7 linked regions of the Homo sapiens genome follow. The protein of the gene in region 5 purifies or fractionates together with the protein of the main gene of each other region. This does not show direct contact. Each region holds a gene or a part of one and is shown on either strand. Other genes may lie near its edges. The genes, in order: DHX15, TSPAN5, DDX21, NDRG2, ATP1A1, CCDC86 and DDX27.

Region 1 (3,500 bases), on a different chromosome or scaffold from region 5:
AAGTTTATTCAAGTATTTGACTAAGTTAAAAGTTACAGTAATTCTTTACATGCATTCAAGTTTACTCTTCAGTAGATAACTTCTGCATTTTTTGACTGAGACTTAAAATTGCTATTTTGTGGATTTGGTTGTTATTAAAATACAACTATAATTATTTTTTAAATATTTAGTGTTCATTAATTTTGTTCATACAAATAGCTGACTTTTCTATAGTTGATCCTACATTTCGCTGATTAATATGGTTCAGAGCATACATTGCTCAGTGAAAAAGAGAAATGGCCCTTGTGGAGATGGTCCTGTAGTTTTAAAGAAAGACTTAATGATCCAGGATCTGAAGATAGCTTACTGTGGTGCTGCTGGGATGTTTATAAGCAAATAAGTTGATGTCCTTGTGTTGGAGACCACCACAGAGTTCCCTGGGGACTAAAAGTCCAAATTAGTTTAAATGCATTATTGTGTCCAGACAGTATTCAGGTAGGGCAAATGAAGTACTGCGAGTTCTACTTTGAAGTGGAGTTATTGGGGGCGGAGTGGGGGGAAGTGGTTCTATTAGAAAAAAAGTGAGTTCTATTAGAAGGCAGGTTATTGAGGGAGGAAAATTTACTCTTAGCATGTCCTGACAGTGATGCCAAGCTTTTCACCATAGGGTCTGTTCCATATTAGTCAATGCGGTTTGAACACTTTTTAAGGCTCTTTGAACGCTTACTGCAGTGTTGCAGTCTAGAAAGCATGTAACAATTATATTGATTCTTACTGGTCATAATGTAAATCCCTTGACAAATTCAAGGTCATTTTGTCTCCTGATGGGTTCCTGGTTGTATGGTGTGCCATTTACAATTAGAACATGGTTAGGGCTTGCCTCACTCAACTGCTGAAGTACCAAAGAAGCTTTTATCTTGTCATTTATTAGTTCGCTTTTGCATTGTGTGTGTGTGTATTTAGCCTTAGCTATTTTTAGTCCTTGAGAAAGGCCTAAAACTTGTGCTTTTTTGTTAAGGACTCAATTTAACACTTGTATTTTAGGGTTTGACTTTTGGCTGGCAATAGGCTCTTACTAATATCAATAATGACGAGGGTTTGCCAAGTTGGCATAAATCATTTGATTCTTAAACACTTGCAGAATCATGTATCCGCGAATTGTTAAGTATTACAGAATTTAATACACTCACCCAGACAAAAAACATACACACAGGATGAAATTATTTTGTGGAGAAAAATTAACTTTTTATAATGGTAACTAAAGAGTTGGTCACATGAGAAATTTTTATCACATTGTATTATGTTATAGAAGAAATATGTGAAATGTATTTTTTCCCAGAACAACTTTTTTAAAAGTGATTTTCTTCATAAATATTTTCAGAACTATGGTTTTCACCCCAGAATTCCAGAAAGCCAGAAGACGTCTTCTGTATTTACAGGCATGTAGTTGGTTCTGTATAGATTTGAGATAGGGTCTCAGTCTGTTGCCTAGGGTGGAGTTCTGTGCCATGATCATAGCTCACTGCAACCTGAACCTCCTGGACTCAAGCAGTCCTCCCACCTTAGCCTCCTCGGTAGCTGGGACTACAAGCATGTGCCACCATGCCTGGCTAATTTCTTTTATTTTTTTGTAGAGGTGGGGTTTTACTATGTTGTCCAGGCTTGTCTCAAACTCCTGGACTCAAATAATCCTCCTTGGCCTTTTTAAGTGCTGGGATTACGGATGTGAGCCACCATGCCTGGCCTATTCTGTATAGTTTATAGAGCATTTCCACATCCTTACATAATTTATTCCCTACAACCCTGTGTTATGTAGACTAAGTAATATGCAAGTTATAAAAGGAATACAAGCTTGGGGGTGTTAAAACCTTTCCAGTTACTTTAGCCACTCAGGTTTGATTGCTAGGTCTGCCAGTTACCTCTAAATTCATCGCTTCTTTAACTACAAGAAACTGACTTTCTAGAATATTAAATGCCGGTTATGCTTATTCAAGTTTCACCTGTTAACCTTATGTATGTCGTTGTTTGCTTCAGTTCTAGTTGCTGATTATTTTTCTAAATGTCCTGAAGAATGTATTTCAGCAACATCATCAAACCACATGTGGTTTCTTATTCCTTTGCTAGTTGTCAGTCTTTTCAACTGACAAAAGGAAACATTTTGGTTTTTGACTTGTAAATTATTCTGAAATACCCTCTTGGTAGATTGCTATTATGTTTTTAAATCCCTGAGGTTTCCTGTTAGTATTTTGGGAAGTCTACTACTTAGTAAATATGAAATCAGAAAATGAAAGTGTTAATATTAAGTAAAATAGTTAATGCAGCAAAAGCCTATGATTTTTAAAGCTATTTGATTTATAAAATTAAGTGTTTTTAAAATAAAATAGGGATAAATATAAATCTTTTCATTTTTTGTATGTGCCCATAGGCATTTCTCCCACATGTGTTTTTTTAAGATGGAACTTTAGTGCTAGTGCTGTTTCCTTCTCTCATGAGTAGGTCTTAACCTTACCGTCAAGGACTGTCCTAAATGCTATTATTTTTCAGTAAAGCTTTTCTTGACTTTGCTATGGAAGTAAACCTTTTTAAATTTCACAGTGTGTCTTTGGTGCCACTCACACTTTCTATCCATGTCTAATCATCCCTTACAAATGGTAAAAGCAGACTCTGTTTGATTCATCTTCTGTATCAATTGCTTGCATATACAGACATCTTCAACTTAATATCAGTAACCTGTTCCTGAAAATCATGTCCTGAGTTAAAATACTAATGAGGAATCCCCATTTCCCATTGTTTAAAAAAAAATTATATGTAACATGTATTTCCCAAGTCCTTAACTAATTTTCTAAAACATATGTAATATATAGTAAAACATGCACGTATACCAAACAAGCTATCATATTAGTATGTAAATGCTTTAAACATTTTCCGTCAATAAAGAATTATAGTTCTTAACAGTTGCTTTGTATGTAGTAACGTATTACATGTCATCCCGTTGAGACCATGCACTTACCGAAATATTTACATTTGATTCTGCTGATCTGTCCATTCTTACTGGATTATAACTTGAGTTTTTTTCCATGTGGCATTTTGTTTAAAATGTTGAGTTGAATTTTGGTGATATAAATAACGAAGTTTTCATTTGTAAATATTGCCCAAAAACATTGAAATATACACTTGTGGAAATTTGAATACTAATTATAAGGGCTGTTTTATCAGACGTTTTGTAAGGCACGTTATATTGCTTCATCAGTATTTTTCTTTTTATGCTGTCCATTAATTTGATTAAGCAAAATGTAATGCGGTTGAGTGATAACCTGAAGTAATAGCTTTGTTGAGAAAGAAGTTGCTGTTGTGGTGTAAACAAAATTTTGGTTCCTTAAATATTAATTTACCTTTTTAAAGCATTGGCCATTGAAGATCAAATGATATTTCTAGTTTATTTGCTGGCTTGAAATTCCTTGTGTCAGTGAAAGTTAGTGGCTGATCTTTAACAGTCCTGTTAATTTTATTTGATATGTAAT
Region 2 (3,500 bases), on a different chromosome or scaffold from region 5:
GAGGCTGGAGGATGGCTTGTGCCCAAGAGTTTGAGACCAGCCTGGGTAACATAGTGAGACCCTATCTCTACAAAAAAAAATTAAAAATTAAAAATTAGCTGGGTGTGGTGATGCGTGCCTGTAGTCCCAGCCACTTGGGAGGCTGAGGTGGGAGGATCACTTGAGCCTGGGAGGTTGAGGCTGCAACTGCACTCCAGGGTGACAGAACAAGACCCTGTCTCAAAAAAAAAAAAAAAAAAAAAAAAAAGTATGTTGAAGGAAAGAATTACAAAATCATCAGAAAGTACGTAGGAATCATCTCCTCTAACTTCCTAGTCAGTGAAGCATTCTCCATTGTATCGTGCCTACCTTTCTAAGCATGGATCTGTTTTTGGACCACTTTAATTGTAGAGTTTCATCTGTTCAAACTAGATGTTATCTGTCTCCCCATCATTTCCATCCTCCTAATTTACTGTTCATTTAAAATTTTTATTTGGAAACATTAAACCAATAGGAAAATTGCAAGTAGTATAGAGAACCTGTTTTTATCCTGTTTGAGACAAAGTTGCCAGCATGTTGGCTATCACACAAACAGTTGAGTATGTATTTTCTGTAAACTGGACTATTCTCCTAGATCACCACAGTACAACCATGAAAGCCAGGAAATTACCAATGATACATTAACACCATTTAATCCTTAGATTTCATCCAAGTTTCCCAGTTGCTCCCATAATGTTTTAAAGCAAAAGAATTCAGGTCAGAACCACACTTTGTATTTAGTTACATGTTTTTAGTCTCTTTCAGTCCTTCACTATCATGCTCTTGATACTTTTGACAATTATAAGCCAGTTATTTTGCAGAATGTCCCTCAGTTTGTGTTTGTGCCATTTTCACAAGCTTAGATTCAGGCTGTGCATCTTTGGTAGGAATAGTACAGAAATGGTGCTGCGTTCTCATTGTACCCTATCAGGGTGGCATTGATTTCTGTTTGTCCCATTACTGATGATGGTCACTTGATCAAGGTGTTGTCTGCCAGGCTTCTCTACCATATAGTTACTCTTTTCTCATTTGTAATTTATAAATGTTTTATGGCAAATTACATTGAAACCATGTAAATAGCCTATTCCTCATCAAATTTTCAATCTGTTATTTATTTATATCAGTAAGAACTTAGTGTCTTCCTTTTTTCAGTGTGGTTTAATGTTACTGTCATTACTTTATTTAAAATGGCCCTAGGTTTGGCCAGTGCAGTCTTTTCACATTGGCTCCTGTGCTCTTTTAACTCCCATCAGTCTTTGAGCACCATCTTGCTCTCTGGCAGAATAAGATGTTCCAAACTCATTTTGTGATTTACCTGTGTCATCTTTTGTATCAGACATTTCTCCAAGGAGCTATTGAATGGAGAATGGAATTTAGAAGCCAAGATCTGGTTGCTTGGTGTGCTCATTGCTATTAGGGTGTTGCTACTCTGTGTATATACAGACACACATGTACATCTGTAATTCTGTATCTATGTACTTTTAAAACCATGAGTTTACAGTCATACCTTAAATTCCTGTCTGATACCACAGGGTTTAGTTTTTCCTCTCCATATTTTATAACTGCTTTATTTGACAGTGAGATTCTTGGTTCGCATTATTCTTAACAGTTTACTTATTTGGTAAATCTCCCCATATGTAACCAATCTTCTGCAGCTGCCACCACCTTTCCTCCTGGGGCTGCCCTCCTCAGCTGTTAGTGCTCTAGCATCCTGTGCCACCACCCCCATCCCCATATGGATACCTTTCTCCCTGAGATACCCTGCTCTGGGCTTCCACAGCATCCCTCTTCCTACGTTTTTGTAAACGTAGGAAGCCTACCAGATTGGACCTACCTAATGGCTTTGAATTTTCAGGAAGGAGAAGGCGAAGAGCCTCGGCTACTCTTGAATGATGTAAAATAAGACTTATCTTCCTTCCCCATGGTCCTTCATTATTTAAAAATAGCCATTATGTCATTCCTAAACATTCTGTTTTCCACCTTTAAAAGCTCCTAGTTCCTCCATGTGTTTACACTAATGATGTTTTTCTTGTAAGCATCTCAAAGAGTCTTCCAAACATATTATATCTTTGTGACAGATGAAGAAATTGGAGTACAGAGATGTGGAGTAACTTTTGAGATGTTGAAGAGCATGTCAGGGTTCGGTTTTAGAGTGTTAGGTCTACATATACTGTTTCCAGATTGTTCTTTGCCCTGGTCACGGTGCTCTGCCTAGGGTCCCATTTGGACACACCTCTATTAATGCAGCAACCAGAATGAAACACGTTGTTCACAGGCTTTTCTAACCATCCGAAGAGCAGCAGGCTCTTGAACTCTCCCTTCAGTCCCTAGGCTGTGCTGTGCCTGGTGGCAGAAGCCTCTGCTACTGTCTGGAATTGACTTTGAGTAAGTTACTTTCACAGATTAGTTCCTCAGTTGCTCATCTAAAAAAACCAGGAAAATAATTTTCTGCAAAGTTGTTATCCAGTATTATGTGAGATCATGCATATCAACGTGCTTCATAAATGGTAAATCTCTAAATACAAATACTAGTTATTAACCCAGGCTAAACTGCACTTGCTTTCCCTGGCAGCCAACGAACACTTTGGCTTGGATTGACTTTTTAGTGAAATAAAACCTTCACTTTTTCAAGTGAACTCTATTAAACCATCCCCCTAAGCTATATGCTAATCAGAAGCCCTAACCCTCCAGTTAATTATTTGAATTTAGATTTAGTTCTGTTTATTTCTCCCATTTAAATGTCTTATTCTGGCCCATTGGATTTCAAACCTGCTACCAGCAATCCTAGGCCTCCTTGAGGCGTATGTGGGTGGGTGGGTCTGTGCTGGTGGGGTGTGGACTGAGCAGTACCTCTCTTTCCTCCAGAAAAGCTTGGTTATTAGTTTGATATTTTGGGATACTAAGAAAGATTTTGCTTGAAAAAAGGGGTCCCACCACTTAAGAAAGAAAAGAACCAGTATTCTAGCCTTTAGATGTCTTTGAATCTTGATGGCCAAAGTACATTTTTAAAAAAATTACTCCTCGTGTGGGTTTTTATCTCTTGGAATCTCTCCATGCATGGGAAGTCCCTCTCACTAACTAGGGGTCACTTCTGTAGGATTAGTTGATATTTCACCCCTTTATGCATGTAGTGTGGCAGCCTGATTAGTAAGGAAATTTCAGTCTTCCCACTGGGAGATCTGGTTCAGTAGGTCCATCCAGGATGGGGTCCTGGAATTTCTGTTAAGAAAAAAATCAAAACTTCCTGCAGGTCATTGTGATGCCCAGCTGAGTTTGAGAAGCTTTAGCTTGTTTTTCTTGGGAAGATGTGGCCTCTCCTTCCCGTTGCTCCCTGGAGGGGATGTGTGGGAGAGCTGGGCGTGGGTGGTGTAGAGCGGTGACCATTTCACCAGCACATGAAGCTAGTGTTCTTTGCTTACGAGAAAAAAAAGGTGGCCTATTTTATCCCTCATGGAATTTTTTATTAATCCAAAAACGCCAGT
Region 3 (3,500 bases), on a different chromosome or scaffold from region 5:
GTATCCCATGAGCTTATCCAAATCCCTTATGAAAATCTGGTTTATAGGCCAAGCACGGTGGCTCATGTAATCCTAGCAGTTTGGGAGGCCGGAGTGGGTGGGTTGCCTGAGCTCAGGAGTTTGAGACCAGCCTGGGCAACATGGGAAAACCCCACCTCTACTAAAAATACAAAAATTCGCTGGGTGTGGTGGTGGGCGCCTGTAGTCCCAGGTACTCGGGAGGCTGAGGCATGAGAATAACTTGAACTCAGGAGTGGAGGTTTCAGTGAGCTGAGATTGTGCCACTTCACTACAGCCTGGGCGACAGAGCGAGACTCTGTCTCAAAAAAGAAAATCTGTTTTACAACTGTTTGACCCACATGAGTTGAATAGTTACTAAGGGGCACTCTTCATTTTCCAAGATAGTGAAACTATTGATATATACCCGTCTATATATATAGCTAAGAAGCGATTTTAGAAAAAGCTTACTATTTTGATTTTTACCTTATCACAGCATGAAAGTACAAATGTCGAAATGCCCCAAAATTGTATTTTTTAAAGTTGAAAATGATCTTGAAATAATCCAGAATTGATGAATGTTGCAAATGTATAAATGCCTTATTCAGTGTTTGTATTTTCCTTATGAATTTTTTTTAGAAAGAGAAAAAAGAGAAGCCAAAATCTGATAAGACTGAAGAGATAGCAGAAGAGGAAGAAACTGTTTTCCCCAAAGCTAAACAAGTTAAAAAGAAAGCAGAGCCTTCTGAAGTTGACATGAATTCTCCTAAATCCAAAAAGGCAAAAAAGAAAGAGGAGCCATCTCAAAATGACATTTCTCCTAAAACCAAAAGTTTGAGAAAGAAAAAGGAGCCCATTGAAAAGAAAGTGGTTTCTTCTAAAACCAAAAAAGTGACAAAAAATGAGGAGCCTTCTGAGGAAGAAATAGATGCTCCTAAGCCCAAGAAGATGAAGAAAGAAAAGGAAATGAATGGAGAAACTAGAGAGAAAAGCCCCAAACTGAAGAATGGATTTCCTCATCCTGAACCGGACTGTAACCCCAGTGAAGCTGCCAGTGAAGAAAGTAACAGTGAGATAGAGCAGGTACATTTGCACTTCATTGGGTAGAAGATATCTTTCATTGTTGTTTCAGATAAATAAGTAGGTAACTGCTATATGTACTCTTTAATAGTAGGAGAAAATGTGATGTGTCAGCACCTTGTGGGTTGGGGGATACCTTAGGCTGACTGGGACTTCATCTTAAAAATTAGCATACGACAGGGCATGGTGGCTCAGCTAAGAGTACTCTGTCTTTTTTATTTTTTTATTTTTTTGAGACAGAGTCTCGCTCTGTCACCTAGGCTGGAGTACAGTGGCACGATCTCAGCTCACTGCAACCTCTGCCTCCTGGGTTCAAGTGATTCTCCTACCTTAGCCTCCTCAGTAGGTGGGATTACGGGTGTGTGCTATCACGCCTGGCTAATTTTTTGTATTTTTAGTAGAGGCGGGCTTTCACCATGTTGGCCAGGCTGGTCTCGAACTCCCAACCCCAGGTGATCTGCCCGCCTGGGCCTCCCAAAGTGTTGGGATTACAGGCATGAGCTACTGTTCCCAGCGGACTCTGTCTTTAAAAAAAAAAAAAAAAAAATTAGCATAGTGTCACAATGCCTCCTTTACAAATAAGCAGATACTGCTTAAGCTTAGGGAGAGTCTTGGTCTGCTTATTTGCAAGTCAGTCAACAGAAGAGATACAGTTTTGTAAATGGGCCCTAGTTTCCCTCTGAGGGGTTTAACCAAATAAATTATTGGAATTACTGAAAAGGTTGATTGCATAAGTCCTTTTGGTTAGGCCATTAAGTAATCATCCTGGAGTTGAACAGGATGATAAAATGTCTGTCCAGAACCTAATTCTGTTATCTTTCAGAAACTCAGTTATGAAAGAAATACGAATTGTATTAAAAAAATTTGTTTTAGACATGGGATCTCGCTGTGTGGCCCAGGCTGGTCTAGAACTTGTGGCTTCAAGCGATAATCCCGCCTAAGCCTCCCGAGTAGCTGGGATTACAGGCACAAGCCACCACACCCAGCTGAAAAATACTAATTCTAATAGATTTTCTTTTTGCTATAGATCATGGTCAACATTTGTAACTTTTTTCCTGATTATAAAAAATATGTGATCCAGAGAAAATAGAAAATGCAGACATTTTGCAAAAAGAAAGAAATGCTTCCTGGAATTTCACCATTCATTTAGTAAATATTAATACCTGTACTTTTCAAGTACAGAAGTCATCTTGTTAATTTTTGGTGTTTCCTTGTAGTACTTTTAGTATATGCATCTATTATTTTTAATCAGATTAGGATTGTACTGTGCAATCTTGTATCTTTTTTGTTTCTAGCTAAGCATTTTCCTCGTTAAGTACGCTTAATGGTTACATAATCCTTCATATAAATGTCTTGAAATCTACTTACTACTTGTATTGAGCATTCAGATATCTTACTATCAAATAATGCCACAGTGACTGCTACCTCATAAAATGTTTGTTCATTTTCTATGGATGTGTGTATACAAGAGATGCTGCTTTGGAAGAGGGCTAATGACATTTCCATCAGTATATTGTTGATTATGGTTATGGAGTAGATCTTAGTTGAGATCTAGTCACACATAATCTTAGTTGAGATCTTAGTTGAGATCTAGTTACCCAGTATATATTTGCCTCAGATTTTTCTTTTGTTAAAGTTTTATAGATTTATGACAATGTTTCCTTTTCAGATCTCGAGTTACCTATCAAGGTTTTTGTATCTTTTTGGTTGATTTTTAAAGTGATGTGTTTAGAAGAATTGCTTTAGGATAGCTTGTTTTGTCTCTTTCTCAGAAGGTTCTCTATTAATTTGTGTAGGTGATTATTGATTTCTTTCTATGGCCCTTTACTTGATAGGAAATACCTGTGGAACAAAAAGAAGGCGCTTTCTCTAATTTTCCCATATCTGAAGAAACTATTAAACTTCTCAAAGGTAATGTTCTTGGAAATATCGTATGATGTTAGAACGTATTATTTTAACAGAAGCACTCCACTATTTTTGTTAAGATGAACCAGGATGTATTCTTATTGTAGGCTGATATATGCAGTCATATAATGAAGTAGGCCTGTGTATTCAATTTAGTACTATAGTAGTGATGGTTCTTCATGCTTCTTAAACAAGTGGTTAAAGCTTTTTCAGGCCCTCTGTGGTGGCTCACACCTGTAATTGATTGAGGCCAGGAGTTTGAGATCTTCCTGGGTAACATAGTGAGAACCTGTCCCGACAAAAAGTTTAAAAATTAGCTGGGCACGTGGTAACACACATCTATAGTCCTAACTACTCCAGAGGCTGAGGAAGGAAGATCGCTTGAGCCCAGGAGTTCAAGGCTTCAGTGAACTGTGGTCACACCACTGCACGCCAGCCTGGGTGACAGAATGAAACCCTGTCTCAAAAAAAATTGTATTTAATACAGTGTGTATTCAGAAGTGTATTGACTAATGGTG
Region 4 (2,895 bases), on a different chromosome or scaffold from region 5:
AGGGGTTAAAAGAGTAGGAATTTTAGGTGGGCAATGCTATCTAACCAGATATAAGCTATCTCTCCCATGATGGAACTATCTTTGTCTAAAAATTACGGTCAAATCTTGGTTATTAAAGGTGGAAACCAAAGGAGAAAGGGGCAGGCAGGCCCCAAGCACAGCCCCTATAGTCACTTGTGCCCTAGATCCCTGGTCAGAGGGCAACAAAAGGGGAGGAAGGACACAGGACACAAGATCATCTTACTTCTGGGAGTCCAATAATCCAAAGGAGGTAAACAAGAGAAGGGGGACAGCCCCTTGCAATCCTTCCCACTGACTCTGTCCTGAAGCTGCCCCCATTGCACACTAAATGCTGCATTCCTTGCACATTGCACACTACCCAGACTTCCCTCTCCTCCTCTGTGCCTCCCCCATGACGCCCAATTACTGCTTCTGCATTTCTCTCACATGCATACACACACAGCCCACCCACTTGTTGTAGCTGTTCCAGTACAATTCAATGTTATCCAGGTTGGGTGCATGTGTAATGATATTTCTGTACTTTTGTATCAACTCAGAATTTCCAGAGAGCTCTTCCTGAAGGAGAGAACAAGGAGAAAAATTAGGGATGGAAAGAGAAAACAACAATTACTGGAGGAAAAGAGGTAAGCCTTCTTCCTTCCCCAAATCCTGTCCCAGCTAAGGAAGTTAGCCCAAGCATTCAAGTTCCCTGCTGCTCCCGTCGACTCTTCTACATCTCCTACACCCACTTACCTGGCTGAAAAGATGTCCAAGGATCATCTCCGGAATGGAAGAGGTGAGGCCTGTTAGCTATGAGGAGAAGGCAGGTGAGAAAGTTCAGGGTATTGGCCAGGCACAGTGGCTCACGTCTGTAATCCCAGCACTTTGGGAGGCCGAGGCGGGTGGATCACGAGGTCAGGAGTTCAAGACCACCCTGGCCAAGATGGTGAAACCCCATCTCTACTAATAATACAAATATTAGCCAGGCGTGGTGGCGGGTGCCTGTAATCCCAGCTACTTGGGAGGCTGAGGCAGGAGAATCACTTGAACCCAGGAAGCAGAGGTTGCAGTGAGCCAAGATCAAGCCACTGCACTCCAGCCTTGGCAACAGAGTGAGACACCATCTCAAAAAAAAAAAAAAAAAGAAAAAGAAAAAGAAAGTTCAGGATATTATAAGAGACTCAGGCAAAGTGACAGCTTCACTTTCCTGCCCCTTTACTCCCTCCTTGAAGTTCAGAGTCCATCCAGTTAGGCTATCTACCAGAGCCTAACTGGATCCATACGAGGGGATCCCCAACCGTAGGTCTCAGCACACAGGCCCCTCCAAACCTTGTGGGCTGCCCAATCCATCCAACCCTTGGCATTGGGATCAATGTTGATGAGGACAAGACCTTCAACAGTGTCCGGGTGGTTAAGCTGAGGGACAGCAGAAGGAAGGAAATGAGAAACAGGGCATGGCCTTATCCCCTCCCCGCTAAGCTCGACCCACTCCTGGACTCCCACAGGGCCTGACTCCCCACCTAGTGCCCACTTCCTCCCCCAAACAGCACTAATAAACAGTATTCTCCTAATCAGTCTGGACCCTCCTTTCCCTCCTCTGGGCTTTTTATTTCTTACAGCATATCTCGCCAGGATGTAGGCTCCAGCTCCAACACCAACTCCAATTATTGTAGAGAAACTGTGAAAGGGAAAGAAATATACGCCTCATGGGATCTGCTGTCCAAAACCTGCCACAGCCCATCTCTTCAAACTCTTCACCCTCCCTCCTGAGTCCACGGGCACAAAGAAAGGCAGACACGGACCTTTCTTTGGAGGACGCGAAAAAGAAGGGCCCAAGAAGCCAAAGGTTGGCACGGGTAGTCAGGGTAGATACCTGAAGTCTATCCCCAGCTTTCTGCTGGAGAGCTAGTGTCTTAAAAACAAACACCCATCCACCAGCCAACCAACACACTGTTTTCCCATATAGATAGCTCTTTGTCCATTCTCAATTTTCAAGAGCCAGTTCAACTTGTTCTGCTTTAGTTCCTGGTTCCTCTAGAGGAACGGGAAGAATGGAACTTAAAGCAAATGTGAAAACAGACACAATTTTAGTGAACAATGGAGAGAATGAGGAAAAGAGTGGCAAAGTGGTGAACCAGAGCTGCTGAGCCCTGGTGCCTAGGAGAAGCTTAGCTAAGAACAGCACCCAGGGGCCAGCACCTCCCTCTGAATACCAAAGACACTTGGTCTGGTGTTCTCTTCCTTCCCCAACTCTCTCTCACCCGCAGAGCTCCCCATCCACCAGGTGTGGGCATGAAGGAGAGGGGAGTGGGAGAGAAAGAGACAGGTCTATCTGGTTCCTCAGGGATTATGTCACCCCCTTTCATTCCTCCCTGACTTTCTGATCAGAGAAGGCCCTCCTTAGCCTGAGGCAGGGCCAAGCATAGACCCTTTTCCTTCCCTCCACCCATTAGGGCTATTCTGTTGACTCTGGCCAATTTTCCAAACCCACCACCTTTTCTCAATAATCAAGGCGGGAGCATGAAGGAAGAAGATATATTGAGTTCAGAAGCTGAAACTGGCTCAGGAACCACGGTGAACCTGGAAGTTCTAAGGGTCTCCTTGTGCTGGAAAGAGAACTCTGGTTTGGAGGGGTTCCCAGGCCTCTCACTTTAGGTACTGCAGGACGCAAGGGATCATGTCTGCAAGCTGGTCCAGAGATGGGTACTGATATCTGGAAAAGAGAGGCATGTTAAGGAAGATACCAACCTGCCCTCACACCCCCCACCTCAGGATGTCCTACTCATTCTCTCCCAGAATAACCACTGCCCTCCCTTTCCTCCTCCCCAGTCGAACCTTTCCCGCACCTGTCCTGTTCCTCACAGTCTGGTGAAGCAGTAACGACCTAACTCTTAC
Region 5 (3,500 bases):
TTACCTGGAAAGATGGTTTAGATTCTGACAAGTTTTCACTAAATCATACTTGGTTTGTATTTTAAAGTCTAAAACATGACCAGTCCTCAAACTGTAACTGAGATCTACATTCTGAAGATGTGACTATGGTCAGTTTGCTGGTCCAGTCACCTTAGCTAATCAGACTGACCACTGAGGGAGCCTAGACACCTTGAGGGAAACAAAAAACCAATAGAACTATAGCCCCTCCCACTCCTCCTCCAACCAAAGTCAGAATGCCCATAATTACCGCCAGGGCGTCGCCTGATGATGAGTTTTCTGACTTCGTCATATACGAAGATGAGAAGAGAGTAGGGGAAGGCACAGAACCACCAGGTAGGTCTGGAAATAGAGTAAGGTACCAATTTATATGCACACGAACACAGTTCAAATAAAGAAAGAGAAATTGCACATCACCAGTGACAATGAAATAATCAGCCTGAAAGGAGAAGCCAAGTACAGTCACAGTTAACTACTGAGTCATTAACAGAACAAATAAAAATGTCTTAAAACAGATTGCTACTCCATGTGCCCAGGGCCTAGAGACGCAGAGGAAATCAGTCTGCAGACTTTGTAATGGAATCCCTACTCATCTTCAGTTTGGATTTCATAAGACTTGGTTTATAGGATGAGCAGAGTACTTTTCTGTTAACCATCCCAGAGCAACTGAACATTTTCTTTCTTTCATTTCTAAAGTGTTTAAGAAGCTTTTTAAGACCATCTGCCTAATATCCCAGCATTTTGAAGATAAAGACCTGCCAGTGTGGGTCAAAACCAGTTTATGCATTCCCCAAATTTGATCTCTGACAACAGCATTTGGGATATCAGCTCTGTGTTCTGAGGCCTGGTCCTGGGGACTGAAAAAAGCTGAGCCCGAAGGCTTCCAAGGGGCCTGGAGGCTGAGCCACACAGTCTCTAGCCTGCTGACAGGCTCCAGGCAGCCTCCGTGATCACCAGCTCCCTGCTATGGTGTGAGAAAGGCTGTCCCTGGGCAGGACTCCGGTGGTCTCCTCTTCTTCCTGTGTGTCTGACAAGGCAGCTAAGAGAGATGATCTCATTTGACTCAGTCACCGAATAACTGAACCACCTTCCAAAATTGGGCAGAACCTGTCAGAACAATCTCTTTGGTGGTGGCAAAAAAACCAGGGAAGGACCCAGAAGATGGAAATGCCCCCTTTTCAGTGTAATTTTCCACCAGCCTTTTTGGAAAGCTCTGTGACCTCTCCAAGCCCCATCTTGATACATAATGGCCCAAGCTGACAGAATTCAATTTGGAGATGGCTGGCCCCTGCTGTACACCAGCTTTGTGTAGGGAGCTGGGGATGCACAGAGAAGAAAGACACTGTGGCCCATGCCTTCTAGATTAAAACCTAGCAGGGAGGTGAAATGACAAGCAACAAGTAATGCCAGAGAAGAGGTGCAAGTGCACAGGCCCTGGAGGGACAAGCTCCAAGGAAACCGGCCCTGAAGGGACTATCAGGATTGGCAGGGTAAGAGGGAACAGAAGGAGGGATGTGGGGAGGAAGGATCTTACCAAACACAAAGGCAGAGGAAGAAAGCCGAATTCACCTAACATGAGCTTGGATGGGTAAGGGGTACAAGAGAAAGCTATAAAGACAGGTTGGGACAATGAGACTGACTCTGGATGCCAGTCTCATCTTGCACCACAGACGATGTCTGCACATAACCCACAGGAAGTGAATGAGGCTGATGGGTTTTGGTTACTTTAGGGATAAGATGAGCTGAAGGAAGTGCTGGCAACAGGGGATTGAGAGATGGTCCAGACGGGTCTGAGCAAGGATGAGGACAGCAGGAATTCAAAGGAGACTAATGCTTTAAATCAAAAGCTTCAAAGGAACTTGTAAATGGGTCCCACAATCTGTGGCTTTGCACGTTTTAATCAAGTTGCAGTTGCTTAACCTCAACCAGGTATCACCAAACATACTCAATGTTGCAAAAAACTAACGGAGTTTGTGATAAACCCTCTTTGAAAATTCAAGTTTATCTGAAATGCAGAGTCATTCACTGTGTTTAAGGCCAAAGACTAGCAGTATGCTTCCTTTGATCAACTCTACCCATGACTGATTATAAAGTAAAAGGGACCTCAGATCTGTTTCTCCAACCTTCTTTCTTTGAGAGCAGAGTATTCAGAGTCTCAGAAAGGTGGATGACTTGTAATGGGACAGTGACTAAGCAAGCAAATCAAGATTTGAGCCTGGGCGCCTACGCTCCAGCATACCCCCAGTTGGCCTCTAAAGACAACTGGACTACAGCTGTGGCAGACCTGAGTGCTCAATGCAGTTCGCTGTTGAGCAGTTCCATGGAGCTAGAGCCTGTGTGGCTTTATCTTATCTTGGGCCAAATCCTAAACACTAGCTGCTATCATGGAAGCCTCAGGATTTGTTAGTCTGATTTACTGACATGTCAAGCTTTCACAGTTTTCCAACCCATAGGAATTTTTGTACATACCACTCAAAATTCTGAAAATAACAACTATTACCACAAGTAATGGGGGGAAAAGCCACACATACTATTTCATACTTTTTGGAGCTACCAGAGGATCAACTTACTTGAGGGGATACATCCTAAGAGCAACACCCATTCCAGGGCAGTAGGAAAGGAAAGCAGCCAGGGCTGTCTCTTCAAAGAGGCCAAATATCAAGATCTTGTTCCTAAAATCAAAGTAGGGGAGAAAAAACTTAAAAGGTGCAAATAAAGGTTTATCTTCTAATGCTATGCATTAAAATGGCAGATCAACATCTTTATGTATTAGCTGTACTTGAAAACTTGGAGGTCAGATGAAAAAACTAGAAAGCTACATTTCTTGCTTCCTAAATTTGCTCTATAAACTAGAGATTCCAGAAACCTGGCTATATGTGTCATATGTTTAGTTTTTGGCAAAGGGTTTACAAATCACCAGTCCCCTTCTTTGAGCCAAGGCCTTGACATGTCCTTCATTACTTACTTCATCCCCTGCTGGAAGACCGAATTCCTCCTGGTCTTACAGATGACCAAGTCGGCCCACTGCACCACCACGATACTGACGAAGAAGGCTGTGTGGCAGGTGAACTCCACGATTTTCCTCTGCTCATAGGTCTGAAATGCAGAAGACAGAAGATGAGCTCTGGCTCTTCACCTGCATGGCTGGTGGCAGTGTGGCCTCAGTCTTCTGGGGCTTGAGGAGCTCTGACACTGGTCAGGTCAGAGGTGCCCACTCACCCACTGCTGCCCGTAGCTGTCTTCCACATCGTTGATCCAGCGGTCATCCCAGTCCACTCGGAGGCCCAACAGGTGAATTGGGAGGAAGCCGTTCTCAGCCAGAATCACAAAGTAAGTAAAGAAGCCTCCCAGGGCCTGGATCATTCCTAAGTTGGGAAAACAACCCAATTACTAGAACCTCACACACAAGGGTACCTGTATAGCCTTCAGCTGATTACTGCAGCAGGCCTGGGAGAGCACATATGGAGGAGTGTTTCCCCCTG
Region 6 (3,234 bases), on a different chromosome or scaffold from region 5:
GGAAACAGTATCCAGGCAACAGGAAAGGGATGTTCAGAGGTATTGAGGCGGGAGCAAGCTCCCGTTTGAGAGGCTTTCCAGAGGTCTCGCTGCTGGAATGAGGGGGAGAAGGGGAACAGTAGGAGATGAGGTCAGAGAGACAGCAGGACCTGGTGACCCTTACAGGGACTCCCGGCTTTCCTGAGTGAGCTTGGGAGCCATGGAAGGGTGTCAAGCAAAGGAATGAAATGACCTGACTTGTGAGATCAGCCTGGCTACTGAACACAGACATAGGCGGGCAGGGGTGAAGGCAGGAAAACCCACAAGGAGGCTGTCTCAAGAGAACTAAAACAGCTTCCGAAGCTGCAGGCAAGTCTGTGGCGAGGGGCCCAGCAGGGCCACTGAATGGATGTTTGGGATCTTTGAGGGAGCAGCTTCGGTGGGTAGTAAGTGAGCCTGGAGATGGGTGGGAAGCAGCTCCTGCTGCAGGGAGGAAGACAGCCGCAGCTGGGAAAGTGTATGTGGTGAGGGAGACCTGGCTGCAGCCCTGTCTTCGTGCTCATGCCAAACGCCACTTTCTCCATAGTGCCCTTGGGCATGCTGTCTGCCTTCTCTGAGGAGTAGCATTTATGGAGCACCTATTACGTGTGTGTGTCGATTAAATCTCCCACCACCCTTTGGGTTAGGAATGATTCTCATCTCCACTGGACAGGATGCTGAGACTTAGAGAGGCTACCTTGCTCCAGGTCACCCAGGTTGGACTTGGAACCCAGGCCTGAGTTTCCTCAATACCCAGGTAGAACCAATGGTCTGGAACTGCCCTGCCTCAGTACCTTAGCCGCCAGCCACATGTGGCTATGTACATTTAAATTAATTAAAATTAAATAAAATTTAAGATTCAGTTTCTCTATCAACACCAACCACATTTCTAGCGCTCAGCAGCCACCCATGACTAGTGGCTACCTTATTGGACAGTGTCAATGTGGAATGTTTCCACCATCACAGAACGTTCTGTTTGACAGCCCTGCTCTACACAGATGCAGCACTGTGTCTTGTGGTTCTGTGTGTCTCTAGGCTCCCAACACCTTGTCCCTTCAGGGTTCTCGTACCCCAGCTTGGGAAGCCCAGCTTTACAGTTATGGGGGAAGTCCATGTGGCACCCCATTCTTAGTGCTTAGGAGGCCAGGCCTTCAGTGGCAAGGCCTTGGGAAGGGGAGAAGGAAATCAGGGAGCTGGGGCCAGAAGTCGGCAGGGCCAAGGGACACCAAAATGGGCCTTGAATCTTTAAAAGAGAAAGACCTAATTTCAGCATGTGGAGGCCACCGAGAGACTTCTTTGCATTTTGTTTTTACTTTTTTTGAATGGAAATTTTCAAGCATACAAAGAAAGAGCAAAGCTCTCAAGTCCCCATTATCAGCATCAACACAGCTCAGCATTTTACTAGTGTAGCTTCATCTTTGATACTTGGCTTTTTTTTCTTTTTTTCTTTTTTTTTGTTTTGAGACGGAGTTTCATTCTTGTTGCCCAGGCCAGAGTGCAATGGAGCAATCTCGGCTCACCGCAACCTCCGCCTCCTGGGTTCAAGCGATTCTCCTGCCTCAGCCTCCCAAGTAGCTGGGATTACAGGTGTGTGCCACCACACCCAGCTAATTTTGTATTTTTAGTAGAGACAGGGTTTCTCCATGTTGGTCAAGCTGGTCTCGAACTCCCGACCTTAGGTGATCGGCCCACCTCAGCCTCCCAAAGTGCTGGGATTACAGGCGTGAGCCACTGCGCCCGGCTGATCTTTGGCATTTTTTTTTCCCTGAAATATTTTAAAGTACATCCTAGACATATCATCCCATTCATAAATCCTTGTAGTATGCATTTTTACAGAGATGAGCTCAGTTCTCCTGTAACTCTAAAATCATCGTTGCTCTTTTCAGATTTCCCTGAGAGCCCTGATGCCCACTTCATCTCCAACTGGGGGAAGAGATTCTTTTTCTTTTTTCTTTTTTCTTTTTTTTTTTTGAGACAGAGTCTTGCTCTGTCACCCAGGCTGGAGTGCAGTGGCGCGATCTCGGCTCACTGCAACCTCCACCTCCCAGGTTCAAGCAATTGTTGTACCTCAGCCTCCCAAGTAGCTGGGACTATAGGCATACACCATCACACCCAGCTAATTTTTGTATTTTTAGTAGAAACTTTAGTAGGTTTTAGTAGGCTTAGTAGGTTTTGCCATGTTTGCCCGGCTGGTCTCCAACTCCTGGACTCACGTGGTCTGCCCACCTTGGCCTCCCAAAGTGCTGGGATTACAAGCATGACCACTGCATCCGGTCTTGGCGGGGAAGATCCTGAATCATTACCCAGAACTTTAACCACTCACACTGTTCTGAAATGGAATGGGCCACCTCCCTAGGGGGTGAGCGCCCCGCCTCCAGAGGCATTCACACCCGGGCCAAATGCACTTGGCGGAAGCAACAGAACTTTACAGCAGGGGCCGCGTAGCCTGGACTCTGCAGTCGCTGACAGGATTCAAGTCCTGACTGCCACAAGGTATCTTTAGGCAGCTATTTAACCTCTCCGCGCCTTGGCCTGCTCCTCTGTAAGTGGAGAGGATAGGAGTACCCACCTCAGAGGCATGTAGCCAAGGCTTGAGAAATGGCAGCCAGCACGATCAGGGTTCCCTCCCGCCCCAAGTTTCTGCAGCCCTGGAAGGCCGCCTGTCAGGCCAGCAAGGAGGTGGTTCTGCCTGGGCTCTGGGGAAGAAGGTCCAGAGCCTCCGGCCGAGAGGAGACAGGGCATGGGTGGCGCTTGCCCCACAGACCCTGTATGCACCCACTCTCCCCCTTTCAGATTCTCCCAGATGCTTCAGGACAAGCCCCTGCGCACATCGTGGCAGCGGAAGATGAAGGAACGACAGGAGAGGAAGCTGGCCAAGGACTTTGCCCGTCACCTGGAGGAGGAGAAGGAGAGGCGCCGCCAGGTGAGGGGCCAGCCAGGCTGAGGCTGGGGCTCAGAGGACTAAGCTAGTGTCTACTGGTACAGACCTGAGGCGAGGGCCTCCACGGGTGCCTGGGGGAGGCCGACTTGGTTAAAAAACGTTCTTGAATCTGAAGGCCGGAGGGAGGAAGGGCACCTGGCCAGAAGCAGAAGTGCAATCTGGGACTACAGGGCAGGGAGGCCCAGGGGACCATACAGTTTAGCCTGGGCTGCTGAAAGAGCCTCAGGGACAGGGACGGAGGGGGAGGACCAGAAGCGGGCCTTGGGGAGAAGCCC
Region 7 (3,500 bases), on a different chromosome or scaffold from region 5:
TTAGGTATATACCACTACTTGGGAAGCTTAGTCTGCCCCTGCCCCAACCTTGGGCTGGGGAAAATGGTGTGGGACAACATATTCCTAAGAGCAAGCCAGGATTCTCTGGGGTTCTGCAGGATGGAACTTGAGATGAAAGAGTTATCACTCCCCTGAAGGAAAGCTCCATTTCTGAACCCAACAATGTACTATTTCACCTCCAAGGCAGGAACAGTGCTAACTGAACACCCCTCTCCTGTTCTCACCTTGGGATCCTCAGGTGGCTCTGAGAGGGGTGGGGGGTGGAGAACAGACAGGTACCCTTGAATTTACATAGTATAAAGCTATAGGTGTGCAAAAACTGGAAATGGGGAAGGAGGCAGAAGACTCATAGCTTCCATTAGAATACCAAGGGCTCGCCGGGCACGGTGGCTCAAGCCTGTAATCCCAGCACTTTGGGAGGCTGAGGCGGGTGGATCAGGAGGTCAAGAGATCGAGACCATCCTGGCAAACATGGTGAAACCCCATCTCTACTAAAAATACAAAAATTAGTTGGGCATGGTGGCGTGCGCCTATAGTCCCAGCTTCTTGGGAGACTGAGGCAGGAGAATTGCTTGAACCCAGGAGGTGGAGCTTGCAGTGAGCTAAGATGCACCACTGCACTCCACCCTGGGCGACAGAGCGAGACTCCGTCTCAAAAAAAAAAAAAAAAAAAAAAAGAATACCAAGGGCTCCATGATGACTTAAAATCCTACCCAGCTCGATACTGTTTCAGGGCCTTCTTGCTTGTGTTGGTGAGTTCTTCATCAAATACAGATTTCTTCCCCTGCTTTTGCTTCTTGGCTGTGCACAGAGAGAATGGGTTACATATGGTTGTCTTTGGCCCAAGCTCCTAAATCCCCTTAAGTTCAAGGTAATGATTCCAAGTTCAGTGGATACTCTGGCATCCAAAGACTATTTTCATTCTGTCCTCACCAGCTCCTCCAAGTAGCAGCTGGTGAGGCCTTAGGCTCCGGAGTCAGAAAAGCTGGCGTTCAAATCCTAGTTCTCAACAACCACAAGGTCACTGCGCCCCTTAGACCGTGGAGGGATAGCTGTACACATTGGTACATACTAATTACTCAAATAATGTGGGCTACTGTCATCATCCCTCAGATTTTCTCCCTGACCCAAAGCACAGGTTTCAGGGAAAACCTTGTACAAGCTCCTTTGGGCTCCCCATTCACCTACCAGGACCTCTCACTGGCTCCTCCTCGGGCATTGCTCGGGCCCGCTTGGCTCTGCGATTCCTCTTCGCTAGCCGTTCAGCAAACATCTGCGCCTTGAGGATTTCAAACTGAGACCTTTCCTCTGCCTAGGGGGAGTGGGGAGGTGTGAGTGTGGAACACACCAGGCCACTCTGACCCACCCCACCGAGTGGGCCCAAACTCCAAAAGGGAGGCCACTCACTGTCATCTCCCCCTTTTTTTTGGCATCCTTCATAAACTTCTTCCTTTTCTTCTTTCCTCTTAAGGCCAAGTCAAATTCCTGCAGAGCTTTGGCAACTGGGATGAGAAGAAAGCATAAGATTTCAGGGATGATTTTATCTTTTTTTAAGCTTACGATAAGAAGTGCACGTTTTCAATTGGTAAGTTAGCAGATTAAAATGAAAAGCGGCAAGCACTTCTTGGCCGAGTGCAGTAGCTCGTGCCTGTAGTCTCAGCACTTTGGGAGGCTGAGGTGGGTGGATCACCTGAGGTCAGGAGTTTGGGATCAGCATGGCCAACATGGTGAAACCCCGACTACTAAAAATACAAAAATTAGCTGGGCATGGTGGTGCACCTGTAATCCCAGCTACTTGGGAGGCTGAGGTGAGAGAATTGCTTGAACTTAGGAAGGGGAGGCTGCAGTGAGCTGAGATCGCGCCACTGCACTCCAGCCTGGGCGACAGAGCGAGACCCTGCCTCAAAAAAAAAAAAGAAAAGAAAAGCCGCAAGCACTTCTTCCACTGATTACCTCCATCTCACTAAATAACATGCTTTTTTGACTATTTCTCAATCCACTTAAGATACTCATTACAAACCTCCTGCTATGAAGGATGAAGATTTAGGTCACTTTACTACTTTACCCACCAATACAGTTATAACTCTATTTTTATCAGAAATTTAAGTTATATACACCCTTATTTTGTCCCATCAAATATAGACAGCATTTCTAAAACTGCTGGTATACCCTCTAGGAGGGAAATTTTGCAACCTCTAACAAAACTAGAAATACAAATATCCTCTGACCCACTATTCCACTTTTAGGAATTAATCCTGCAAGCCAAATATACACTTGCTTAATTGTAAAAGGGCATATGTGCAAGGTTATTCCCTACATCACTTGTTTGTAATGACAAATGATTATTTTTTGGGTTTTTTGTTGTTGGTGGTGGTGGTTTGAGTCGGGGTCTCATTCTGCCGCCCAGGCTGCAGTTCAGTGGCAGAATCTTAGCTCACTGCAACCTTGACCTCCCCAGGCTCAGGTGATCCTCCTACCTCAGCCTCTCAAGTAGTTGGACTATAGGCATGCACCACCATGTCTGGCTAATTTTTTGATTTTTAGTAGAGATGGGGTTTTGCCATGCTGCCCAGGCTGGATGACAAATGATTGTAAACAACCTCAATGTCCCTCAACAATCTACTCATATGATGGAAGAACATGAAGCCATTAAAAAAAACAAAAAGGGGGCCGAGTGCAGTGGCTCACACCTGTAATCCCAGCACTTTGGGAGGCCAAGGCAGGCGGATCACGAGGTCAGGAGATCGAGACCATCCTGGCTAACACGGTGAAATCCCATCTCTACTAAAAATACAAAAAATTACCCAGGTGCGGTGGCAGGCACCTGTAGTCCCAGCTACTCAGGAGGCTGAGGCAGGAGAATGGGGTGAACCCAGGAGGCAGAGCTTGCAGTGAGCCGAGATTGCGCCACTGCACTCCAGCCTCAGTGACAGAGCAAGACTCCGTCTGAAAACAAAAAACAAAAAGGGCAGCATATGTGGGCCTATATAAAACATATCTCTAAGCTTCAAAATTAAGTGAAAAGGCGAGGCATAGAACAATGTGAACTTATAAGTGTTTTGGGTCTTTTTTAAAGGGAGATGGAGAGGAAATCTGTATTAAATATCTCCTAACTTTTTTAAAATTATTTTTATTGTGGTTATATATACACATATAAAACAAAGGCTGCCATTTTACCCAATCTTAAGTATACAATTCAGTGGCATTACTTACATTCACAACATTGTACAACCATCACCACTATCTGTTTCCAAAACTCCTATCAGGAGGCTACTCACTGACATCATTGAAAACAGAAGCTCTGCAACCACTAATAATTTCCTATAACCCCCCTTCCCCTAGCCCTAAGTAATCTATAATCTATTTCTGTCTCTGTGAATTTGCCTAGCTAGATATCTCAGGTAAGTGAAATCAGACAGTATTTGTCCCTTTGTGTCTGGATTATTTCATTCAGCTTAAGATTTTCAAGGTTCATCCTT

What was found.
Region 1: the proteins of ATP1A1 (region 5) and DHX15 purify together in Homo sapiens (affinity purification with mass spectrometry, with the first as the bait; one large-scale study listed by BioGRID). This does not show direct contact.
Region 2: the proteins of ATP1A1 (region 5) and TSPAN5 purify together in Homo sapiens (co-immunoprecipitation; one large-scale study listed by IntAct). This does not show direct contact.
Region 3: the proteins of ATP1A1 (region 5) and DDX21 purify together in Homo sapiens (affinity purification with mass spectrometry, with the first as the bait; one large-scale study listed by BioGRID). This does not show direct contact.
Region 4: the proteins of ATP1A1 (region 5) and NDRG2 purify together in Homo sapiens (affinity purification with mass spectrometry; one large-scale study listed by BioGRID and IntAct). This does not show direct contact.
Region 6: the proteins of ATP1A1 (region 5) and CCDC86 purify together in Homo sapiens (affinity purification with mass spectrometry, with the first as the bait; one large-scale study listed by BioGRID). This does not show direct contact.
Region 7: the proteins of ATP1A1 (region 5) and DDX27 purify together in Homo sapiens (affinity purification with mass spectrometry, with the first as the bait; one large-scale study listed by BioGRID). This does not show direct contact.

What each region holds. Positions count from the first base shown.
Region 1 is NC_000004.12:24,543,055-24,546,554, reverse strand, and holds part of DHX15 (ATP-dependent RNA helicase DHX15), read left to right. Parts: intron 1-3,500.
Region 2 is NC_000004.12:98,648,612-98,652,111, reverse strand, and holds part of TSPAN5 (tetraspanin-5), read left to right. Parts: intron 1-3,500. UniProt on the Homo sapiens protein: Part of TspanC8 subgroup, composed of 6 members that interact with the transmembrane metalloprotease ADAM10.
Region 3 is NC_000010.11:68,959,170-68,962,669, forward strand, and holds part of DDX21 (nucleolar RNA helicase 2), read left to right. Parts: intron 1-636; coding exon 637-1,080; intron 1,081-2,912; coding exon 2,913-2,988; intron 2,989-3,500.
Region 4 is NC_000014.9:21,019,167-21,022,061, forward strand, and holds part of NDRG2 (protein NDRG2), read right to left. Parts: intron 2,714-2,895; coding exon 2,651-2,713; intron 1,679-2,650; coding exon 1,618-1,678; intron 1,417-1,617; coding exon 1,330-1,416; intron 811-1,329; coding exon 754-810; intron 577-753; coding exon 473-576; intron 1-472. UniProt on the Homo sapiens protein: Contributes to the regulation of the Wnt signaling pathway. Down-regulates CTNNB1-mediated transcriptional activation of target genes, such as CCND1, and may thereby act as tumor suppressor. May be involved in dendritic cell and neuron differentiation.
Region 5 is NC_000001.11:116,400,744-116,404,243, reverse strand, and holds part of ATP1A1 (sodium/potassium-transporting ATPase subunit alpha-1), read right to left. Parts: intron 3,384-3,500; coding exon 3,238-3,383; exon of another isoform or gene 3,115-3,237; coding exon 2,984-3,114; intron 2,691-2,983; coding exon 2,589-2,690; intron 361-2,588; coding exon 269-360; intron 1-268. UniProt on the Homo sapiens protein: This is the catalytic component of the active enzyme, which catalyzes the hydrolysis of ATP coupled with the exchange of sodium and potassium ions across the plasma membrane.
Region 6 is NC_000011.10:60,845,113-60,848,346, forward strand, and holds part of CCDC86 (coiled-coil domain-containing protein 86), read left to right. Parts: intron 1-2,811; coding exon 2,812-2,941; intron 2,942-3,234.
Region 7 is NC_000020.11:49,239,916-49,243,415, reverse strand, and holds part of DDX27 (probable ATP-dependent RNA helicase DDX27), read right to left. Parts: intron 1,524-3,500; coding exon 1,429-1,523; intron 1,334-1,428; coding exon 1,210-1,333; intron 823-1,209; coding exon 735-822; intron 1-734. UniProt on the Homo sapiens protein: Probable ATP-dependent RNA helicase. Component of the nucleolar ribosomal RNA (rRNA) processing machinery that regulates 3' end formation of ribosomal 47S rRNA.